Linked DNA regions of Homo sapiens. The protein of the gene in region 1 purifies or fractionates together with the protein of each later gene. This does not show direct contact. Each region holds a gene or a part of one and is shown in the gene's direction. Other genes may lie near its edges.

Region 1 (7,028 bases):
ATCTGTGAGTTAGGGTTTCCCCAAAGGCAAACCCTGGGCTAAGAATTTGAGTGCCAGCAGTTTTTTTTGCAAGCGAATCCCAGGAAGCTGGTAGAGGAATAGGAGAAAAGCCAATGTAAGTGCATTGATGCATGTGTTACTGTGGGTGACTGGAACACAGTCCCATTGGGAACCTCTGACAGACTGTGGATCATGCTTTAGAATTGTCCAGCTGAGGGATGAGGAAACTGAACTACTTATCTACCACATCCTGCCCTTCACGGTAGTAGAAGGTCACTCCCTGGGGAATTAACTCTCTGATCTGGCCACATGCACACTTCATGGCCCAAGCCTGCCCACAGACACAGAAAAGCCTTGGCCATGTGTGAGAACTGTCTGCAGGTGATTTGCATGGTGAGCCAGGGGTATATGAATGAGGTCCAACCATGTTTGCTGTGTCATGCAGTGGTTTGTATAAATCCACATTGAATATTGGAGCAGCATCCACTTTAGGGCAGATGATGAGATGAAGGAACATGTGCAAAGCCAGGGAATTACCACACTGTTTTCTTAGCTTATTAAAGCTTTGCCTTGATTTACCTGTTTCTGTTAGAAAGAAGCAGCAGAAACAAAGGCCCGGGAGGTAGCTGAACAGATGCGTCTCGAGAGAGAACAGATTATGCTGCAGATTGAGCAGGAGAGACTGGAGAGAAAGAAGGTAAGGGCTGAGGGTCAGGAAGACCTAGGGTAAGTGAACAGGAAGTAAATCCAGTTCTCTTCTGCAGTGATTGGATAGAATGATCCTAGGATTGTCAGTTAGGTCAAGTTCATTGATACCACTGTTCAAATCTTTTATGTCTTTATTAGTTTTTTGCCATCTCGTTCCATCAGTGATTGAGAAAGATTGTTAAAAACTCCATCTGTAGCGAGGCATGGTGGCTCACACCTGTAATCCCAGCATTTAGGGAGGCAGAGGCGGGAGGATCACTTGAGCCCAGAAGTTCCAGACCAGCTTGAGTAATACAGTGAAACCCTGTCTCTACTAAAAATACAAAAAATAGCTGGGTGTGATGGCATGTGTCTGTAGTCCCAGCTACGTAGGAGGTTGAGGTGGGAAGATGACCTGAACTCGGGAAGTTAAGCCTGCAGTGAGCCGAGATCATGCCACTGCAGTCCAGCCTGGGGAACAGGAGTGAGACCCTGTCCCAAATAATAGAAAAAAGAATAACTCCATCTGTGATTATGGATTTGTCCATTTTTCCTTTCAGTTCTGTCAGGTTTTGTTTTATATATATTTATCGTGATATGCCTTTGTCTCTAGTGATATTTCTTGTCTTAAAGTCTACTTTGACAGCCCCCTGCCTTTTATTTTTTTGAGACAGTCTCACTCTATTGCCCATGCTGGAGTGCAGTGGTGTGATCTCGGCTCACCACAACCTCCACCTCCCAGGTTCAAGCGATTCTCCTGCCTCAGCCTCCCAACTAGCTGGGATTACAGGCGCACACCACCACACCTGGCTAATTTTTGTATTTTTAGTAGAGATGGGATTTCACCATGTTGGCCAGGCTGGTCTCGAACTCCTGGACTCAAGGGATCCTCCTGCCTCGGCCTTCCAAAGTGCTGGGATTATAGACGTGAGCCACTGTGCTTGGCCTGACAGCCCTTTTATGATTAGTGTCTGTATGTCAAATCTTTTTCACCCTTCTACTTAAAACTTCTTCTGTGTGTTTTTATAAGTAAAGAGCATATAGCCAGGAATTGTTATTTTAATTCTGTTTGACAGTCTTTGTCTTTTAATTGGAGTGTTTAGTCCATTTACACTAACTATACTTATGGGTAAAATTGGGTTTAAGCAGACTGATTATAAAGGAGTATTCTCATGGTGTCCTAGGCCCAACCTGGGCTTTGTATTGCTGTAGGCCTGGGATCCAGGAGACCAGCCTGTGGCCTTCTCTCCTGAGATGCACCTCAGCCTCAGCCTCACTTTCTGTAGGGTGGTGCTCTTTAATGGCAGGTGGTAATTTGTTGATTTATACAGAGCCTAAGGAGAAGAAGGAGAAATATGGGATATAAATCGAATATTGATTCTAGATACGTACTAGTTAACTTCTCAAGCATTTGACCTTGTCCATGGGGCCGGAGGTGTACATCTCCAAAACTAGTGGAAAACCTTTCTATACTTGTTATCCTCTTCTGACTTTTGCCTTTTACAAGTTTTCTGAGAAATGTGACATTGCATGTAAACCAAGCTACTTTTATGTTTTTGGTCTTATTGTCCTCTTACTTGATTTTGTTTTTTGTTTTTTGTTTTTAGAGAATAGATGAAATCATGAAGAGAACAAGGAAAAGTGATGTGTCTCCACAAGTGAAGGTAGGAATTCAAATGACCATTTTAATAGTTTATGTACTAAGTAGAAAAGAACAGCAGAATACACTCAGTGAAATTGTAGGTCTTGGCGACGATTAGCCAGAAAAAAATGCAGTTTTCCTGCTTTGTTCCTGGCTAGGTTAAGGAGGGTTAGGTACCTGAAAAGAAAGAGGGGCTTCAGAGGTGGGATGGGTAAGAGATTTCCTTAGAGTCATGGGAGGTGGGATGAAGAGAGAGGCATAGTAGTCCATGAATAAAAAAGAGAATCCTGACATAAAAATACGTAAGAATAAGGGAAACACAGCTGAAGATTTAAAGAATTACCACAGAACAGGCAGATGGTCCAGGCTCAAAATATCATCGGATGCTTTTAAAAAGTACTTTTTTTCTGTGTGATGTCAGCCTTCCCTCATTTCATTCACCTTCCATTTGTTTTCAGAAAGAAGACCCCAAAGTGGGGGTCCAGCCTGCTGTGTGTGTGGAAAAGAAGACAAAACTGGTTGTCCCCAACAAAATGGGTGAGTGTGACATCTGGTTCTTGGGTTCTTCCTTTTAGTAGCAAAAGCTCGTAAGACTTGGTGTAGGGTAAACAGACCCATGGATCCCAAGAGGGTGACTGCTGGCAGGGGCCTGTGCAGTTTCCCTTCCCTGGGAATGTGTCTCCAGCACAGGGACTGTCAGCTCCACTTGGGAACCCACTGGGTTCCTTGGTTACTCCCATAATCCCAGCATAGGAGGCACTCTGGCTGCTGGCTCACAGTGCTTTCCAGGGAGCTTAACTGCTGGTCAGGTTTTATTACTGTTAGGACCTGACTCTGCTCTTCTCCAGAGGTTCTGCACAGACACTGATAATGTGATTTGTCTTCTCTTCTCCTGTGTGAAGGTGATTATATGGGTTTATTTGTGGCTCTTTCCACAAAAGATGCTGCAGTATCAGTGAAGCAGAGCATTAAATTAATTGCCTTGATCTATATTTCTCTGTTACTTTATTTAGACATTTTATGATTAACACAAGGGACTTTGTGTTCTCGATCAGAAATCAATGGATTGAACACCTGCCAGGAAGTTAATGGTGTGGATCACGCTGCCCCAGAAACTTATCCCCAAGACATTTTCTCTAATGGGCTTAAGCCAGCTGGGGGACTCATTCATCTGGATGCCCTTGATGGGAAATCAAATAGCCTGGATGATTCAACTGAAGAAGTTCAGTCTATGGATGTGAGGTATATTCATTTCTTTTGCATTTAAGCCTCATCACTTCTCGAAACACTACCCTTTCTTTTAGTTGGTTTCTTCGTCTTTTATACAACCAAATCACCTAAAGCAGGTTTGATTGACATTACAGGAAAGCTCTCAGTGGTATAACATTCTAGTGTCTTGCGTCAGGTTCCCTAGAAGCAGAGCCTGGAACAGAGTTTCTAGGGCATGTGATTTGTTAGAGGAAAGCTCTTGGGAGTTTTTCAGGAGAAAGGGGAAGGAGGGAATTCGCTAAGCAAGGATGCCTTCTCAGCTGACCCCATGGGAGCTCTGGAGGATGAATTTCCACCAGAGACAGTTCCTCTGAGCTTCTGCAGTTCTGGTTTTTCTAGATTCTTCTCTAAGATCTCACAAGGAAGAAAAAGAAGAACCTGGCAGCAGCTTTACTCTGGCTGTTAAGAGATTCCTGGTGACAGGCCCTCAGCCCACCACTCTTCAGAGCCTGGATTTGTTCCTTTGCTAGGCCTTACAGCTGGCGCAATTATGAAACTCCTCCTTCCATCTCTAGGGAGAGGAAGAGAGAGAGAGAAAGAAAACCAGCCTTGGCTGGGCTGGAGCTGGATAAGTCAGAGTGGATTGGAAGCCTCACTTTAGAGAGGAAGCAGAGCGTGAGATTGGCTTTGCCAGTGATGACGTGGGCTGTGGTGGGATCCTTTCATTATGGGCCCCCCAACCTTAACTGAGCACTTCAGGCGTTTCCACATGAACTCTTCTCAGCACGATCAGATTCACACTCACAGGAGCCCTGGCAGAGAGAAACAATTGTTCCCATTTTACTGGCGAAGAAACTGAGGCTGCAGGAAGGAAAAGCAATTCGCCCAAGGTGGCACTACTAGAAAGGCAGCACTGGGAGCCCCACTGTTAATTAGGGTTCTTCTTCAACTTGCTTTGAACTTTTGGCATTGGCTTTCTGTCTGAATGTCCCATTTAGAAAGTTCTGGAATGCCTTGCTTCTTTGTGGTAGAATGCTGGTGCCTGTGGGTTTTTGTCCTTTCACCCTTTGGGCAATGTGACCTTGGCCATCACAGCCCTGCTCAATCTGCTTCCCTGTTCTCATACATGGGGCCTCGTGTCCACCATCTGTCCTCCTCAGATTTGAGCCCACTTGTATTTTTTACAGTGTGTTACACAAAAACTCTGACTCTAAATCCTTCTTCTTTAGAAGAGTAGTAAAACAAAATATTGCAAATAGAATTAATATATTGTGCCATGTTGTCTGTCTGTCTCTTTCTGCCTCTCTCCCTCTCGTTCATCTCTTCTAGTCCTGTTTCAAAAGAAGAGCTTATCTCTATCCCGGAATTTTCACCAGTGAGTGAAATGATTCCTGGGGTGTCTCTGGACCAAAATGGAACTGGTAATGCCCGAGCACTTCAAGATCTCTTAGATTTCACTGGTCCCCCGACATTCCCCAAGAGATCCAGTGAAAATCTCAGCCTGGACGACTGTAACAAAAACCTTATCGAAGGATTTAACAGTCCTGGCCAAGAAACTCCTCTCAACACCTTCTGTTGACAAATACAGCATCCCTTTAATAAAAGGTACAGTCTTTTGATTATATTCTAACTTCATAACCCTTTAACTGGGGTTTGTGAAGATAGGATGTATATCACTCAGCCTCTTGGATGGTCAAATTTTATTTGAAAAACGCAAACATGAATATATTATGGTATACTACAACACACACAAGAATTGAGACAGATTTCAATTAATTCATCTGCGAGCCTTCAGCGCCGAGCCGCCTTGTCCTAACCCTGCTATTTAGGGTGTGTAGATGGGAAAGTTGAGAACACTGGCTAAAGGTTTGACTACCAGTCCAGCCTGAGTAGCTTTTTTAGGGGGCAAGGAAAGAATACTCTAGTAGTGTTGCAAGGTGATATGAATAAGATGAATTTCCCCACCTCTAGTTTTGCTCAGTGACATCCCACATTCTATCTAGAATCATTCATATACAGGGCCACAGGATTTGCTATTCTCTTGACCCATTCTGGATTCTTCCAAAGCAGACAGCTATTCTTGGATCATACCTGAGGGAGAGAGAACTGCAGTTTTTGTGTCTTGAAGGTTTTTTCCCCACCTTTGGCCTTTTTTTATTTTTGCCAAAGTGCTTCCAGAAGCTATTCTCATTTGAGCAAGAATGTCTATGAGTTATATACACTCTGTAGTAAGGTATACTTAGTTACATATACCTCACATTTTATTTACTTCAGTTTGGGGCTTGTTTTTGAATAAGGAAAACATAATTAGAGTCTGTCACCAAATCCTTTAATAATTTAATAATTCCAATTGCTCCTCCCACTTCAGATTCTGTTTTTGTTTTCAAGAGAAGTGATCTCACTCTGTTGTCCAGGCTGGTGTGCAGTGGCGCAATCACAGCTCACTGAGACTTCAAACTCCTGGGCTCAGGAGATCCCCTTGCCTCAGCCTCCTGAGTAGTTGGATCATAGGCACATGCCACCAGGCCCAGCTAATTTTTTTTAGTTTTTGTAGAGGTTGGGTCTTGCTATGTTGCCCGGCTGGTCTTGAACCCCTGGCCTCAAGTGATCCTCTCTCCTTGGCCTCCCAAGTACTTACTGGGATTACAGCCATGAGCTACCATGCCTTGCATCCATTTATCCATTTTAGATTCTTTTTTTTTTTTTTTTTTTTTTTTTGAGATGGAATCTCACTCTGTCACCCAGGCTGGAGTGCAGTGGCATGATCTCCACTCACAGCCACTTCTACCTCCCAGGTTCAAGCCATTCTCCTGCCTCAGCCTCCCGAGTAGCTGGGACTACAGGTGCACGCCGCCATGCCTGGCTAATTTTTTGTATTTTAGTAGAGACAGGGTTTCACTGTGTTGCCCAAGCTGGTCTCGAACTCCTGAGCTCAGGTAATCTGCCTGCCTTGGCTTCCCAAAGTGCTAGGATTACAGGCGTGAGCCACCGCGCCCGGCCATTTTAGATTCTTAAAAGCATTTTTATATTCTCGGCATTTTCTCAGTCACTTTATTTTTTATACTTCACTCCCATAACAAATTCACTGGCCAAAATAACAGTCCAGTGTTTTTATTTTTCAAATGAGGAAACAGGTGGGAGAGGCTACAGAGCTGAGGTCACTGTGTTTTTTGTATACTTGTTTCTACCTGACCTCAGCTCTTGCCTATAAGACAAGTTTGAGAGCCCATTTCTCTTGGTTCTTGGTGTGTGGTGGGTCACTTTTAGAGTAAACTGTATCACTGGTTTGGAAAAGCAGCTGCCTTCTTGGACACTTAAAACACTAAATCACCTGAGCATTCTATTTCCCTGACAGTTACGTGGCTTAATATTTATTAAGAGGTTTTTTGTGTTTTTAACATACTTTGACTTTAAAATTAGTTTCCCTTCAGTTCACTTACCTCACTATACAGTAAGGAACAGAGAATCCACAAAATTTATTAGAGTATTC
Region 2 (7,028 bases), on another chromosome or scaffold:
TACTTTTGGTATTATTTTGACAAATGAATTGTGAGGATTCAAATATAAGAAAGGGATTATTCTTGGTAGAGTTAACAAAATTGTACCAAATGACTTTTTGTGTTAAACACGATTCATTCACCCAACCCTAGAAAGGAGCCTGAATGAAGTCTAATTTGGGTGACAGATTCCCACACAAATTAGATGTATGTCATTCAGGTATAGAGAATTGATTTTATATTAGAAAAAACAAACCTTGTAAACAGTTTTATAAATAACTGTTTCATGATTTTCCTTAAGTAGTACTGATCTCTTACATATAGATCGTTTGTGTCTTTCGCCTCAAGTTAGTATAGAACAGGGCAAGTGGCAAAGCTCGAGGAAAGTGTGACCTGAGGTACATGCTGTCAGCTTGATGCTGGAGTTTGGCCTCTCAAATCTCTAACCTGTTAAATGAAGTTAATTAGGATTAATTTTTTTTAATGTATGTTTACTACTGAAAATAAGTGCTCGGCCAGACGCAGAGGCTCACGCCTGTAATCCCAGCACTTTGGGAGGCCGAGGCTGGCAGATCACCTGAAGTCAGGAGTTTGAGACCAGCCTGGCCAACATGGCGAAACACTGTCTCTATTAAAAATACAAAAATTAGCTGGGTGTGGTGATACATGCCTGTAATCCCAGCTACTCGGAGCCTGAGGCAGGAGAACTGCTTGAACCCAGGAGGCGGAGGTTGCATTGAGCCAAGATTGTGCCATTGCACTCCAGCCCAGGCGACAGAGTGAGACTCATGTCTCAAAAAAAAAAAAAAAAAAAAGAGGAAAAGAAGTGCCCAATAGCTTCAATGGATGCCACATAATTTTGGAATAATTTTTACAATCAGGAATTTCATTGTCCAAGCCCCTTAGAAAAAGAAGCAACCCAGCCCCATACCCAGAAAGTCAAGCTGTATAGTGCTGTTCCTTAGTGAGACGGTCAACTCTCAGTAGAAAAATCTCCTGTTTGGATTAGTGCTTAGTTGACCTATTGTGTTCAGTTCCTCTAACATGAGTAACTTCTATTGGATAGGAAATTTTGAAGCTCAAAGGGTGTAATGAGAGTTAACATTACTGATTTTCCACTGTTACTTTTTAGTGTTTTCATAACTTGGATGTGTTAACCTATGGCCCATCAACTATGCTCCTAGTCTCAGGTGACAACATGTTCAATTTAAGATGGCAGGCAGTACAGTGGACCTCTCTCATCCCATGGGAAGGAACCCAGGATGTTTATTATGTAGTATTGTATAGTCTCTGCAGCAGTAATAGAGAAAGTTAAAGGTAAGCGGTGGAGAAGTAAAATCTAGAGTTTCTAATATAACCCTTCTCACTTTTCTTTTCAAAAAAAATAAGAGGGTCTCACCATGTTGCCCACACTGGTCTCTATCGAACTCCTGGGCTCAAGCGATCCTGTCGTCTCAGCCTCCCAAAGTGCTAGGATTACAGGCATGAGCCACTCTGCATGGCCAAGCTCACTCTTCTTAAAGGTCTGCTAGTAAGAGGGTTTCTACTTTTTGAAACAAATTCATGATTACCTAAAATGAAGCTAGGTTATGAAGTATATATAAATATGCAGCCCAATAGGCTGGGTGTGGTGGCTCACACCTGTAATCCCAGCACTTTGGGAGGCTGAGGCAGGCAGATCACTTGAGGTCAGGAGTTTGAGACCAGTCTGGCCAACATGGTGAGACCACATCTCTACAAAAAATACAAAAATTAGCGGGTGTGGTGGCCTGTGTGCGCCCATAGTACCAGCCACTTGGGAGGCAGAGGCAGGAGAATCACTTGAAGCCAGGAGGCAGAGTTTTCAGTGAGCTGAAATTGTGTCACTGTACTTCAAGCCTGGGCAATGGAGTGAGACTGTCTCAAAATATATATATATTTGCAGCCCAATAAAGATACTTAGATAAAACTATTGGGTTTATTCCTTGAAAACTAGGGCATGTGTAGCTAGATCTGGCTCATAAAAAGCAAAGTTATTTACATATATTTTAAGGTAAAATTGCCTCTGATAAATGTCAAAGAGGAAGTTTAGGTCTTTCTTCTGGCAGAAAGCCAGAGAGTAAGTGCTGAATGTGACGCAGAATCATGTTAGGTAACAAGGACTTTGAGGTAAGTGGCTGAAGTCTTCTGTGGAGTCAGCCGACTCTTGCAGGATTGTGTGGTATCAGTCACCTTTAGCATTTGCCAACCCAACTCTGATCATTCTTCTTCTTTCAAGGTATCTCAGCGTTTGAGTCAGCCAGGAGTAGCAATAGGTTTGGCTTGGACTCCCTTAGGTGGAGAAATCATGTTCGTGGAGGCGAGTCGAATGGATGGCGAGGGCCAGTTAACTCTGACCGGCCAGCTCGGGGACGTGATGAAGGAGTCCGCCCACCTCGCTATCAGCTGGCTCCGCAGCAACGCAAAGAAGTACCAGCTGACCAATGGTAGGAGCCTGCACCCGGCCAGGCAGGCGTGACCCAGGAGGCGGTACCTTCCATGGCGGAGACTGGCATGAGCTCGAGACTGCCAGTTACACATCTAGCAAAGTACACACCGTTTTGAACCCCTGTGGAAATCCTAGTTCCCATTTCAGGACTATTTGACTAGTGCCTGAACTAGAAACTAATTCAAAAGGTTTATTTTGTTTTAATACGACTTAGAGTAGAATGGAACTGTTCTTCCACACCCTCACCCAAATTGTACTGTCCACCAATATTTTGAAGAATTCATTTACCCAAAACATTCATTTTTGTTTGTGACTTTTTTTTTAGGAGAAAAAGAAAACAGGTTTAATTTTTCTACATTAAAGTCCCTTTTTCCTTTTTAAAGCTTTTGGAAGTTTTGATCTTCTTGACAACACAGACATCCATCTGCACTTCCCAGCTGGAGCTGTCACAAAAGATGGACCATCTGCTGGAGTTACCATAGTAACCTGTCTCGCCTCACTTTTTAGTGGGCGGCTGGTACGTTCAGATGTAGCCATGACTGGAGAAATTACACTGAGAGGTCTTGTTCTTCCAGTAAGTATGAAAAAACAATTTATATGGTTATTTTTTATTTAATTTTTGAAAATTAATATTATTTTTAAATACGGGTTTGCCTTCTTTCTATGAAAACCTTGGTTTTAAGTATATATTATATTTTTATGCCTGTAACTAATTCATATTTTAAAATTTTGATCAAATAAAAGAAAAACTGACAATTTTTCACATTTTCCTTTTTTTTTTTTTTTTTTTTTTGAAATAGACAGGTCTCACTCTGTTGCCCAGGCTGGAGTGCAGTGGTGTGACTGTAGCTCACTATAGCCACCAAGTCCTGGGCTCAAGCGATCCTCCTGTCTATCTCCCGAATAGCTGGGACTATAGGAGCACGCCACCATGCTCAGCTAATTTATTTTATTTTGCGTAGAGACAGGGTCTCTCTGTGTTGTCCAGGCTTGTCTCAAACTCCAGGTCTCATGCAGTCCTCTCATCTCCACCTCCCAAAGTGCTGGGATTACAGGCGTGAGCCACCACATTCAGCCCACGTTTCCCATTCTAAGATTTGCTAAGGGAAAAAAATATTAGTGTGGTCATCAGAAATATTGGCAGTTACATGAAAATTTGAGGCCTTGTTCTACTTGACAAATTGTTAAAGATATAGCACATGTGCAAAATGGGATAGTAGTTGTTTTTAAGCTTTAAGCCCATTTCTTAAATTTGAAGTTTCTTTGAGACCTCCTGTCCCCCTGCAGAAAACTTTGCTAGTATAGAATGGAAACTCTAATAAAGATTAACCATATCTAATGACTACATTTTGAAAAGGTTCTATACATGTGGGGTCTTGAGGCTCCAGATCCTAAACTGCTTATAAAAATAGTGTGATAAAATGTACAGAACTTGAGAGTATTTAAAGTTGTTAGTTGAGTATTAGTCTACAACAGACTAGACTACAATTTTAGTCCACAACAAGATTTTGGCAGGTTCATAGCAAGATGAGGAAAAAAAAAAAGAAATAGTCTTTTTTTCTTTTTTCTATCGAGATGGAGTCCGGCTCTCTTACCCAGGTTGGAGTACAGTGGCACAATCTTGGCTCACTGCAACCTCTGCCTCCCAAGTTGAAGTGATTCTCCTGCCTCAGTCTCTCAACTAGCTGGGATTACAAGCATGCGCCACCACGCCCGGATAATTTTTTCTATTTTTAGAACCTCCATAGAACAAATGGGTTTTCTACTTGGTCCCCTCTCAGAGCAAATCGTAGCCCAAGTAAAGGCTTCTGCAGCCTCAGGAGAGACAGCCACAGCGGCCTGGGGTACACCTTCAGCTCCAGACCATTACAAGAGGCAGGATGGAAAGCAGCAGCACTTGAAAGAAAGGCCTGTGAAAGCTGGAGAAAACCTCCTTTGAGAACAGAGGACAAGACGGGGCTTTGGGATTTGAAAGTGGTCAAAGAATTATTCAGGAAAAAACTATAGTGAAAAACAATTTGTTGTTAGAACTCCAACATCTAAAAGGAGTTCTAACAAACAGGAAAATGGAATGGAACAAATTATCCAAGAAATAACTGAACATTTCCTAGAAGTTAAGGCATCTTGAGATCGAAAGGACCATTACTAACCAGGAAAAACATTTCATCCCCTTGACTTTTCAGATTACTGAGGATAAAGCGGCCTCAGCACTGACACTGGATGTGCAGTACCTTCAAAACTATGAGGGAAAATGGGCCAGGCGTGGCAGCTGACGTCTGTAATCCCAGCACTTTGGGAGGCTAAACAGGAGGATAGCTCAAGTCCAGGAGTTCAAGACCAGCCTGGGAAATATATCTCTACAAAAATTGTTTTAAAAATAGTAAGGAGGCTGGGTGTGGTGGCTCACGCCTGTAACTCCAACACTTTGGGAGGCCAAGGTGGGCGTATCACTTGAGGTTAGGAGTTTGAGACCAGCCTGGCCAACATGGTGAAACCCTGTCTCTACTAAAAATACAAAAAAATTATCCGGATGTGGTGGCGCATGCCTGTAATCCCAGCTACTCAGGAGGCTGAGGCAGGAGAATCGCTTGAACCTGGGAGGCAGAAAGTTGCAGTGAGCCAAGATTGTGCCACTGCACTCTAGCTTGGGTGACAGAGTAAGACTGTCTCAAAAAAAAAAAAAATAGTAATGAAAGCTGTGAGGGAAAATGTTTTACATCTAGTCTTGTATACATGGCCTTAGTATCAATCAAGTGTGAAAGTAAAATATTTTCAAACATGCAAGGAATCAGTTCATCTTACACTCTTTTGAAGAAGGTACTTTGAAGGAGTACTTCAGCAGCATGAACAAAACCTTGAAAGAAGATGCCAGTGGGGCGGGAAGGCCTGGAGCAGCCAGCCAGTCTTAATTGGAGCAGATGCAACACATTACCCCAAAGCAAGAATACTCCATACTCTTCAAGTTCCTGTGGGCCAGGAATTCAGGAGAGGCTGAGCTGGGTTCTTGTGGCCCAGGGTCTCTGGCCTTACAGTCTAGGTTCCAGCCAGGCTGCAGTCACATGAAGGCTGACAGGCTGGAGAAACTGCTTCCATGGTGGTTGACTCATGTGACTGGCAAATTGGTCCCATCTAGTGGCAGGAGGCCCCAGTTCCTCACCTGATGGACTTGCCCATAGGCTGCTTGAGTGACCTCAGACATTATGACTGGCCACCTCCAGGGCAGGTGATCAAGAGAGATTCAGGCAGCAGCTCTCGTTTTTTGTGACTCAGCCGTGGAGATCATACAGCATCACTCCCACCACACTCTGTTTCTTACCGAGTCACAAAGCCTGGCCCACATTCAAGCAGGGGGACCATTGTAGACATGTTTGAAAGCCACCATAGGAGCCTAGTTTAGGGATACATTTTCTTCATTAACCAGCATGGAGGTTCTGGCTTTAAACCTGTAGAGAGGGAAGTAACCCCAGCACACAGCTAAGCTCTGCAGGAGCGGCGCTCATGGTCAGAATCACGTGCTGCTTTTTCAGATCAACCTAAAGACTAGACGGTTGTGATTACACCTGAATGCCAATTTACTTTGACAGCATTTATAAAAACAATCATTGACAGAAGAGGAACTCATACCTATCAACAATTTAGAATCCCCCTCATCAGAGTCTTTAATATAACACCAATTGAAACATTAAAAAAAGGTTACTACTTATCCTTTTTCCTGGCTTTCCTAGCTCATGCTATAACAAAACGGAAGATGATTTGGATGTTTTAAAATAGTAGTGGTTAAATTCAGTGAAAGAAAGCTGGGTCAGGGTTTCTTTCAGCTTGAGGGTGATCATTAACCCTAAAAACTTTTTTCTCTCCTTACAGGTGGGTGGAATTAAAGACAAAGTGCTGGCGGCACACAGAGCGGGACTGAAGCAAGTCATTATTCCTCGGAGAAATGAAAAAGACCTTGAGGGAATCCCAGGCAACGTACGACAGGATTTAAGTTTTGTCACAGCAAGCTGCCTGGATGAGGTTCTTAATGCAGCTTTTGATGGTGGCTTTACTGTCAAGACCAGACCTGGTCTGTTAAATAGCAAACTGTAGGTCCAAATCTCAATTTTTTAGAATTTTAAGTTATGAAGTGCTCAAAGGTACTGACACAGTTGATTTTATTCACACCATTAGGGGTATGCAAGATGTCCCTGTTTTATAAACATAATCACAACAGTAATAAACCTCAAGTAGTGGCTAGTGTTTAGTATAGAAATATAAGATGTTGATTTAGTAAACTGATAAAAATCGAATTCTTGTCTTTTTAGTGGGATCCTTACTGTCCCTGGAAAGATATAGCATAGTGGTTCTCAGCACAGTCTCCAGAACAGAAGCATCTGTAGTACCTGGTAACTTGTTAGAAATGTACATTCTCAGGCTCCACAGCAGGCCGCCTGAATCAAATCCTGGGAGGTGGGGACAGAAATCTGTGTTTTAAGAAGCCTTCCAGGTAATTCTGCTGCACACTCAAGTTCAGGAACCACCGGTATAGACCATTACCTTAGTGGATTTACCTGTAGAGTTTATTGGATCCTGAAACCAATCAATTA
Region 3 (7,028 bases), on another chromosome or scaffold:
TTGACCCATAGGTCTCACTGGTTGGTCTTCCATCCACTGCCATTCAGACGGATGCCCTGGATGAATCTGGTGCGGAAGACCAGGGAAGTGGCAGGACAAGGAGGCACTGCTGGTGGTGGCTGTGGAAACACCCAGCCTGACAGAAGGCTTTATCTCAGAGTCAGACTGTCTTGCCCATGCTTTAGTCATGCTGCTTTGGCACATTTAATGATTTTGTGTTTCCATTTCTGTAGGGAATTTGTGGGCTGTTTTATAGATTTTCCTAAGCCTCTGATTGCAGTGGTCAATGGTCCAGCTGTGGGCATCTCCGTCACCCTCCTTGGGCTATTCGATGCCGTGTATGCATCTGACAGGGTAAGTCAGCTCCTAGAAAGCAAGAGGTCAGGCAAGCAGCGCGAGATGAGAGCCTTTGAATCCTCCTTCAGCGTTGCCAGTCATAAGCAGGTTACATGTTGTTTGTGGTAGAATTAACTGAATTTAGATTTTTCCCAAAGCATTAGGCTGATTTGACTGATTTTATTTTTCCTTCATTATTAACTTGCATTTTGTTGTGAACATTGTTCCAACTCTGACTGTTCCGGATTCTAATCAAATTCCACAATAGGTATACAGCTTTCATGTTATTCTGAAAGATTCAGGAGACACTTGAAAATTTGTTATGGGAGGGAGGAATAGCATCTTTGCAGGTTGTGCAAGGGATTAGTTGATCCTTTTTACTGAGTAAATGGATTTAGAATTTTAGAAGGAGAAGGACCTGTGAGCATTATCTACTGTCACTCCCTCCTTTGCAGATAAGAAAACTGAAGCTCTGAGAAGTTCCTTGCCCAGAACACAATTCAGCCTTGTGTTCACCATTGCATTATACAGATTTTAGTTTTTATTTTTACTACAGTAGTAATATATATGTCATAGTGGAAAATAAAATTTTGAAAGATATGAAAAAGTACCAAGAAAAGCTACAAGGTAAAAATCACTCCTTATCTTGCCACCTAGAGATAACCAGTCCTAACGTTTGGGTTATTAACTTATCTTGTTTAACCAGTCCCTGACTGCTGGAACCCTAGGCTGTTTCCAATTTTTATCATTACAAGCACCTAATAACCACCTTTAGGGTATCAGATTGTCCAGTGACTTATGCTTATGTGATGGTAAACTGTGCTGATGATTGCAGCCTTCTAGGGAGCATATGGTTTTTACCACTGAAGAGATTTCTAGTTTTGTTCAGAGGTATTTTCCCCACTGATAGACAGGACCATATAATAGCATCCTTAATTCTTCGAATTTTCTTTTGCTGGATTCCATTGAACCAGATTGGATGTATTGACAGACCTAATTCTTATGAATAATTTTCCCACAAAATTAGCAAATGAGATTCTAGGTGCCAGGCTGCCCAGCCTTTGTAGGTAGAGGTTTCTGTTCAAAGGCAGAAATCAATGTCTTTGTTCACAGTCTGTGTATTAGATGACTGATTAGTCATTGACCTGCTTTTAACAGGGACTGGGTCAATGGTTCCTGACCTAAAATTGGGGATCTCATTCTTTAATACTTGGAGGGCAAATATTGTATTTGAATCTTGTTCTGATTCTCCCACTGAATTGAAAATTACTTTCAATATACATCATCCTTATTTTTTTTTTTTTAAGAGATGGGAGTCTCACTCTGTCACCCAAGCTGGAATGCAGTGGCACGATCTTGGCTCACTGCAGCCACCACCTCCCGGGTTCAAGCGATTCTCCCACTCAGCCTCCTGAGTAGTACAGGTGCGTGCCACCACATCGAGCTAATTTTTTTGTATTTTTAGTAGAGACAGGGTTTCACTGTGTCGGCCAGGCTGGTCTCGAACTCCTGACCTCAAGTGATTCGCCTGCGTTGGCCTCCTGAAGTGCTGGGAGTACAGGTGTGAGCCACTGAGCCTGGCCTGCATCAACCTTTTAAAAATGTTGATGACTTCCATCTTATGATATAAATTGTAATAAATGTTGAAATCAGAAAACATATATACATAATACATATAAAACATATCTATTCTATATATATTATAATATATGTATATTGCATATATATATTAAATGCTAAAAAATTTGGCCAAAAGTAAAATTTATTTGTCAAATAGTGTCTTCTGATAAAAGTTTACCCAACCAAACAAATCAAGCATCATTTAAAATAAAGGAAATTGAGGTGGGCAGATCACCTGAGGTCAGGAGTTCAAGACCAGCCTGGCCAACATGGTGAAACACCATCTCTACTAAAAATATAAAAATTAGCCGGGCTTGGTGGCGGGTGTCTGTAATCCCAGCTACATTGGAGGCTGAGGCAGGAGAATTGCTTGAACCCAGGAGGTAGAGGTTGCAGTGAGCCGAGATCGTACCACTGCACTCCAGCCTAGGTGACAGAGCGAGACTCTGTCTCAAAAAAATATATAAGTAAAAAATAAATAAAATAAAGGAAATATGCTAAAGGAAAAGGCTGTAGAAAAAATTGTTTTATAAGATTTACCATTATTGGCTTCAAGAATAAATATCATATTAAATGATGGGTTAATATTTAACCCATATAACCAAAATATTAATCAGTACATTTAATCTATTTTATACTGTGGGCAATGGTTAATAATGCCTATTAGCTCTGTCAGCAAATGATACATTTCCTGTATGAGTTAAGAAAAAGGTAGAAATCATAACAATAATAAATCTTTGAGTGGTCACTGTTTAGGCACTCTATTCACATGCATTATGTATATTATAAATATACGCATACACACACACATATTCACGTAATGTACAGAGTAGCCCGATGAAAGAAGGACTTGGCCAGGCACAGTGGCTCACGCCTCTAATCCTGGCACTTTGGGAGGCCAGGGCAAGTGGATCACCTGAGGTCGGGAGTTCAAGACCAGCCTGGCCAATGTGGTGAAACCCCTTCTCTACTAAAAATACAAAAATTAGCCAGGTGTGGTGGCAGGCGCCTGTAGTCCCAGCTACTTGGTAGGCTGAGGCAAGAGTAAGGCTGGGCAACAGAGTGAGACCCTGTCTATAAAAACAAACATTCTCCTCCAATGTGGCAAAAATAAGTTTTACAATCTAGGCTGGGCATGGTGGCTCATGCCTGTAATCTTAGCACTTTGGGAGGCCAAGGCAGGTGGATCACTTGAGGTCAGGAATTCGAGACCAGCCTGGCCAACATGGTGAAGCCCCGTCTCTACTAAAAATACAAAAATGAGCTGGGTGTGGTGGTGCACGCCTATAATCCCAACTGCTCGGGAGGCTGAGGCAGGAGAATCGCTTGAACCCGGGAGGCGGAGGTTGCAGCGAGTTGAGATTGCGCCACTGCACTCAAGGCTGGGCAACCGAGCAAGACTCCGTCTCAAAAAAAAAAAAAAGCAAAGAAGGATTGGTTCCCATTTTACAAATGAGAAAACTGTGGTACAGAGAGGGTAAGAAACTTTCCCAACGTCCCTAAGTAGTCTGACGCCAGAGCCTAAACCCTTAACTCCACCTGCTGCTCTCTTTCTGAAAATCAGCATTTTAAATGCTGCTTACTGGCAACTTTGCATGTACCTGTTTGTGTCCCTTTAGCTGTTGTTGGCAGGTTTCTCAGTTTCCTGCTTGTATTCCTTAGGCTGTGTCTTCTGGGTACATTTTTTTGAATAAGTTTTCTTTTGGATAAAAAAAGAAGATACATGACATTAACAGAAACTTTTAAAAATATTGTGATTATTTTTATGTATATGCTGCATATGTTATAGATTTATATCTTCTAACAGTTATATAGTAAAAACAACAGCGTGTCTGATTATAGGAAATGAAATCTAAATATTCTTTTACATATTATGAATTTTAAATTAACATTCTTTCATAATTTATTCATTAAGAAACACAAAAATATGTCTTAAATGTAAAAAAAAAAAAAACTAAAAATGACTATATACTAAATAACCAATATTGAATTAATTCCAGTAGTTAAAGCCAACCAAAAAAACCACTGGGGCAAAATCAAGACAAATGACAGATTGAGGAAACAATTTTTCAACTCATGTAACAAAAGCTGATCTCTCCACGATACTTTTTAAAGTTTGTCTATAAAGCGATAGATCCACAAGCTAAAATAAAAATGGGCAATGGTGAGGAATGAATAGGTCAGACAAAATGAAATATAAAGGGCTATTAAAACCATATGAGAGAAACCACTGAGAAAATGAAAAGATAAGCCATAGACCAGGAGAAAAGATTTGCCTGACGCTCTAATAAAAGACTTGCAATCTGAATGTGTATCTTACAACTATATAATAGGAAGGTAAACAGCCTAACTTAAAAAAATAGTGGAGAAAATATCTTAACAGTTGCTTCACCAAAGAAAATATACGTATGTCTAATAAGTACATGGTAAGAGACTTAATACCATTAATGGTTAGGGACATGTAAATTAAAACCACAGTGAGACCCCACTACATACATACTAGCATGGTTAAAATGAAAAAGACTTAATAGCTAGGTTTAGTGAGGATGTGGAGCAATTGGAACTTTCATACATTGCTGGTGGGAATGTCAAATGGTACAACCACTCTAGAAAACAGTCTAGCAGCTTCTGAGCTAAATATACATTTACCACACAGACCAGCCATACCACTTAGGTATTTACCTATGATAATTTAAAAGAGATTCACCCAGTGACCTGTACACAAGTGTTCCTAACTGCCTTTTTGTTAACATTATCTGAACATTTTTATTTTTAAATTTTTTTTCAGTTTCATTGAGGTATACTTGACAAATAAGAATTGTACAGTCAGGTGCTGCATAACAACATTTTAGTCAATGGCAGACTGCATGTAAAACGCTGGTCTCCTAAGATTATAACACCATATCTTACTATACCTTTTCTTTTTTTTTTTTCACTCTGTCATCCAGGCTGGAGTACAGTGGCATGATCTCGGCTCACTGCAGCCTCCTCCTCCCGGGTTCAAGCAATTCTTGTGCCTCAGCCTCCCGAGTAGCTGGGACTCCAGGTGCACACCACCACACCAGGCTAATTTTTGTATTTTTAGTAGAGATGGGGTTTCACTACGTTGGCCAGGCTGGTCTCGAACTGCTGACCTCAGGTGATTTGCCCACCTCTGCCTCCCAAAGTGTTGGGATTACAGGCATGAGCCACCACACCCGGCCTACCTTTTCTATGTTTGATATATTTAGATACACAAATGCCATTTGTTATAACTGCCTAGAGTATTAAGTATAGTAACATGCTGTCCAAGTTGGTAGCCTGGAAGCAGTAGGGATTACCACATAGCTAGGTGTGCAGTAGGCTGTGGCATCCAAGTATATGTAAGTATACTCCATGATATTGGCACAATGACAAAATTGCCTAATTATGCATTTCTCAGAACATATCCCCATTGTTAAGCAACACACGACTAGATATATTTAAGGTGTTCAACTTGTTTTTCATAGCAGCCTTCTTCATAGTAGCCTTTCATACGTTGCTAGTGGCAGTGTCAAATGGTACAACCATTTGAATGCTAGAAACAACACCAATGGCATTAACTGGTGAATGATAAACATATTATTGTGCATCCATACAAAGGAATACTACTCAGAAATAGCGAGGAACAAACTACTAATACATACAACAGCATGGTGACTCTCAGAAGTCAGACTCAAAATGCTACAGAATGTAGGATTCCACTTATACAGCATTCTATAAAAGTCAAAACTGTAGGGACAGAAAACAGATTAGCAGTTGCTTGGGGGTGGGAGGGAGGGACTGACTACAGAAGGGCCCCCGGAACCTTTCAGGGTGGCTGAAATGTTCCGCATGTCAGTAGTGGTGGTGGCTATGTAACTCTCTATTTGTTCAAACTCATCCAACTATACACTTTTAAAGGGTGAATTGTGTGTGCATATTAACCACATAATCTTAATTTTTAAATAAATATTATTAAGTATTGTGAAGTTATAAGCAAATCGTGATTTTTAAAAATAACACATGAAGCCAGGCATGGTGGCTCACGCCTGTGATCCTAGCACTTTGGGAGGCCGAGGCAGGTGGATCACCTGAGGTAAGAAGTTTGAAACCAACCTGGCCAACAGGGCGAAACCCCGTCTCTACGAAAAATACAAAAATTAGCCAGGCATGGCAGCGCATGCCTGTAATCGTAGCTGCTGTGGAGGCTGAGGCAGGAGAATCGCTTGAACCCAAGGGGTGGAGGTTGCAGTGAGCCGAGATCGCGCCACTTCACTGCAGCCTGGGCAAAAGAGCGAAACCCTTTGTCTCAAAAAAAAAAAAAAAAATCACACATGAAAAGATGGTTTTCTTTTCTCTCCTGCCTCTGCAGGCAACATTTCATACACCATTTAGTCACCTAGGCCAAAGTCCGGAAGGATGCTCCTCTTACACTTTTCCGAAGATAATGAGCCCAGCCAAGGTAACTTTTGGAATGTTTAAATATAAAATTTTATGAGTCATCTCAAGAAAGAAGGAAGAGTAATCTCATATACTCTCCCTTCTTTCCCTTGGTAATATGGACAAAAGAGAAGCTAATGATTTGCTTTTCAACTCTTTAAGAGTTTTACCAATGGAGGAATCAGGCTATGGGAAGTATCTGCTATGCAGGAAAATTAGAAATTCTCTCTGCAGTTCCCAGAACTGGGATCCTCCTCTTCAGCTGGCTGCTTAGTGCTAGCTGCACTGCAAGCAGCACAGCACCTCAGCCTTGCAGCTGTGTGGCATTAGTCACTTGAAGGACCAGGGCTGTGCCAGCCTCCCTTGGTCCCCTGAGTTTGGAGGCCACTCGGTTCCTTTATGGATGACCAGTATCTCCTAAGGAGAGACATGATGACGTCTTCACTTTCAGAGTTACAGTAAGTACCAACAGATGGGAGGTTTTGTGGGGGCTCACGGCTGCCAGAGCCACCCCCAATCACAGCAGCCCTTCCATCAGCCTGCTCACGGGTGTATTCTCTCCCAGGCTGGTTAAGTGGCTGCTCAGGTCTTTCACTGTGTTTCCTAGTTGCCCACGCCCTGTGGCATGACTC

Evidence for each region. Proteins that work in one complex are often made in the same cells at the same time.
Region 2: the proteins of MAP7D2 (region 1) and LONP2 purify together in Homo sapiens (affinity purification with mass spectrometry; 2 studies listed by BioGRID and IntAct, with this or other methods). This does not show direct contact.
Region 3: the proteins of MAP7D2 (region 1) and ECI2 purify together in Homo sapiens (affinity purification with mass spectrometry; 2 studies listed by BioGRID and IntAct, with this or other methods). This does not show direct contact.

What each region holds. Positions count from the first base shown.
Region 1 is NC_000023.11:20,008,892-20,015,919, reverse strand, and holds part of MAP7D2 (MAP7 domain-containing protein 2), read left to right. Parts: intron 1-592; coding exon 593-697; intron 698-2,294; coding exon 2,295-2,351; intron 2,352-2,787; coding exon 2,788-2,866; intron 2,867-3,384; coding exon 3,385-3,571; intron 3,572-4,867; coding exon 4,868-5,117; 3' UTR 5,118-5,143; intron 5,144-7,028. UniProt on the Homo sapiens protein: Microtubule-stabilizing protein that plays a role in the control of cell motility and neurite outgrowth via direct binding to the microtubule. Acts as a critical cofactor for kinesin transport.
Region 2 is NC_000016.10:48,345,272-48,352,299, forward strand, and holds part of LONP2 (lon protease homolog 2, peroxisomal), read left to right. Parts: exon of another isoform or gene 1-1,640; intron 1,641-2,235; coding exon 2,236-2,443; intron 2,444-2,828; coding exon 2,829-3,019; intron 3,020-6,309; coding exon 6,310-6,531; 3' UTR 6,532-7,028. UniProt on the Homo sapiens protein: ATP-dependent serine protease that mediates the selective degradation of misfolded and unassembled polypeptides in the peroxisomal matrix.
Region 3 is NC_000006.12:4,118,576-4,125,603, reverse strand, and holds part of ECI2 (enoyl-CoA delta isomerase 2), read left to right. Parts: exon of another isoform or gene 1-233; coding exon 234-354; exon of another isoform or gene 355-644; intron 645-3,557; exon of another isoform or gene 3,558-3,655; intron 3,656-6,328; coding exon 6,329-6,418; intron 6,419-7,028. UniProt on the Homo sapiens protein: Able to isomerize both 3-cis and 3-trans double bonds into the 2-trans form in a range of enoyl-CoA species. Has a preference for 3-trans substrates.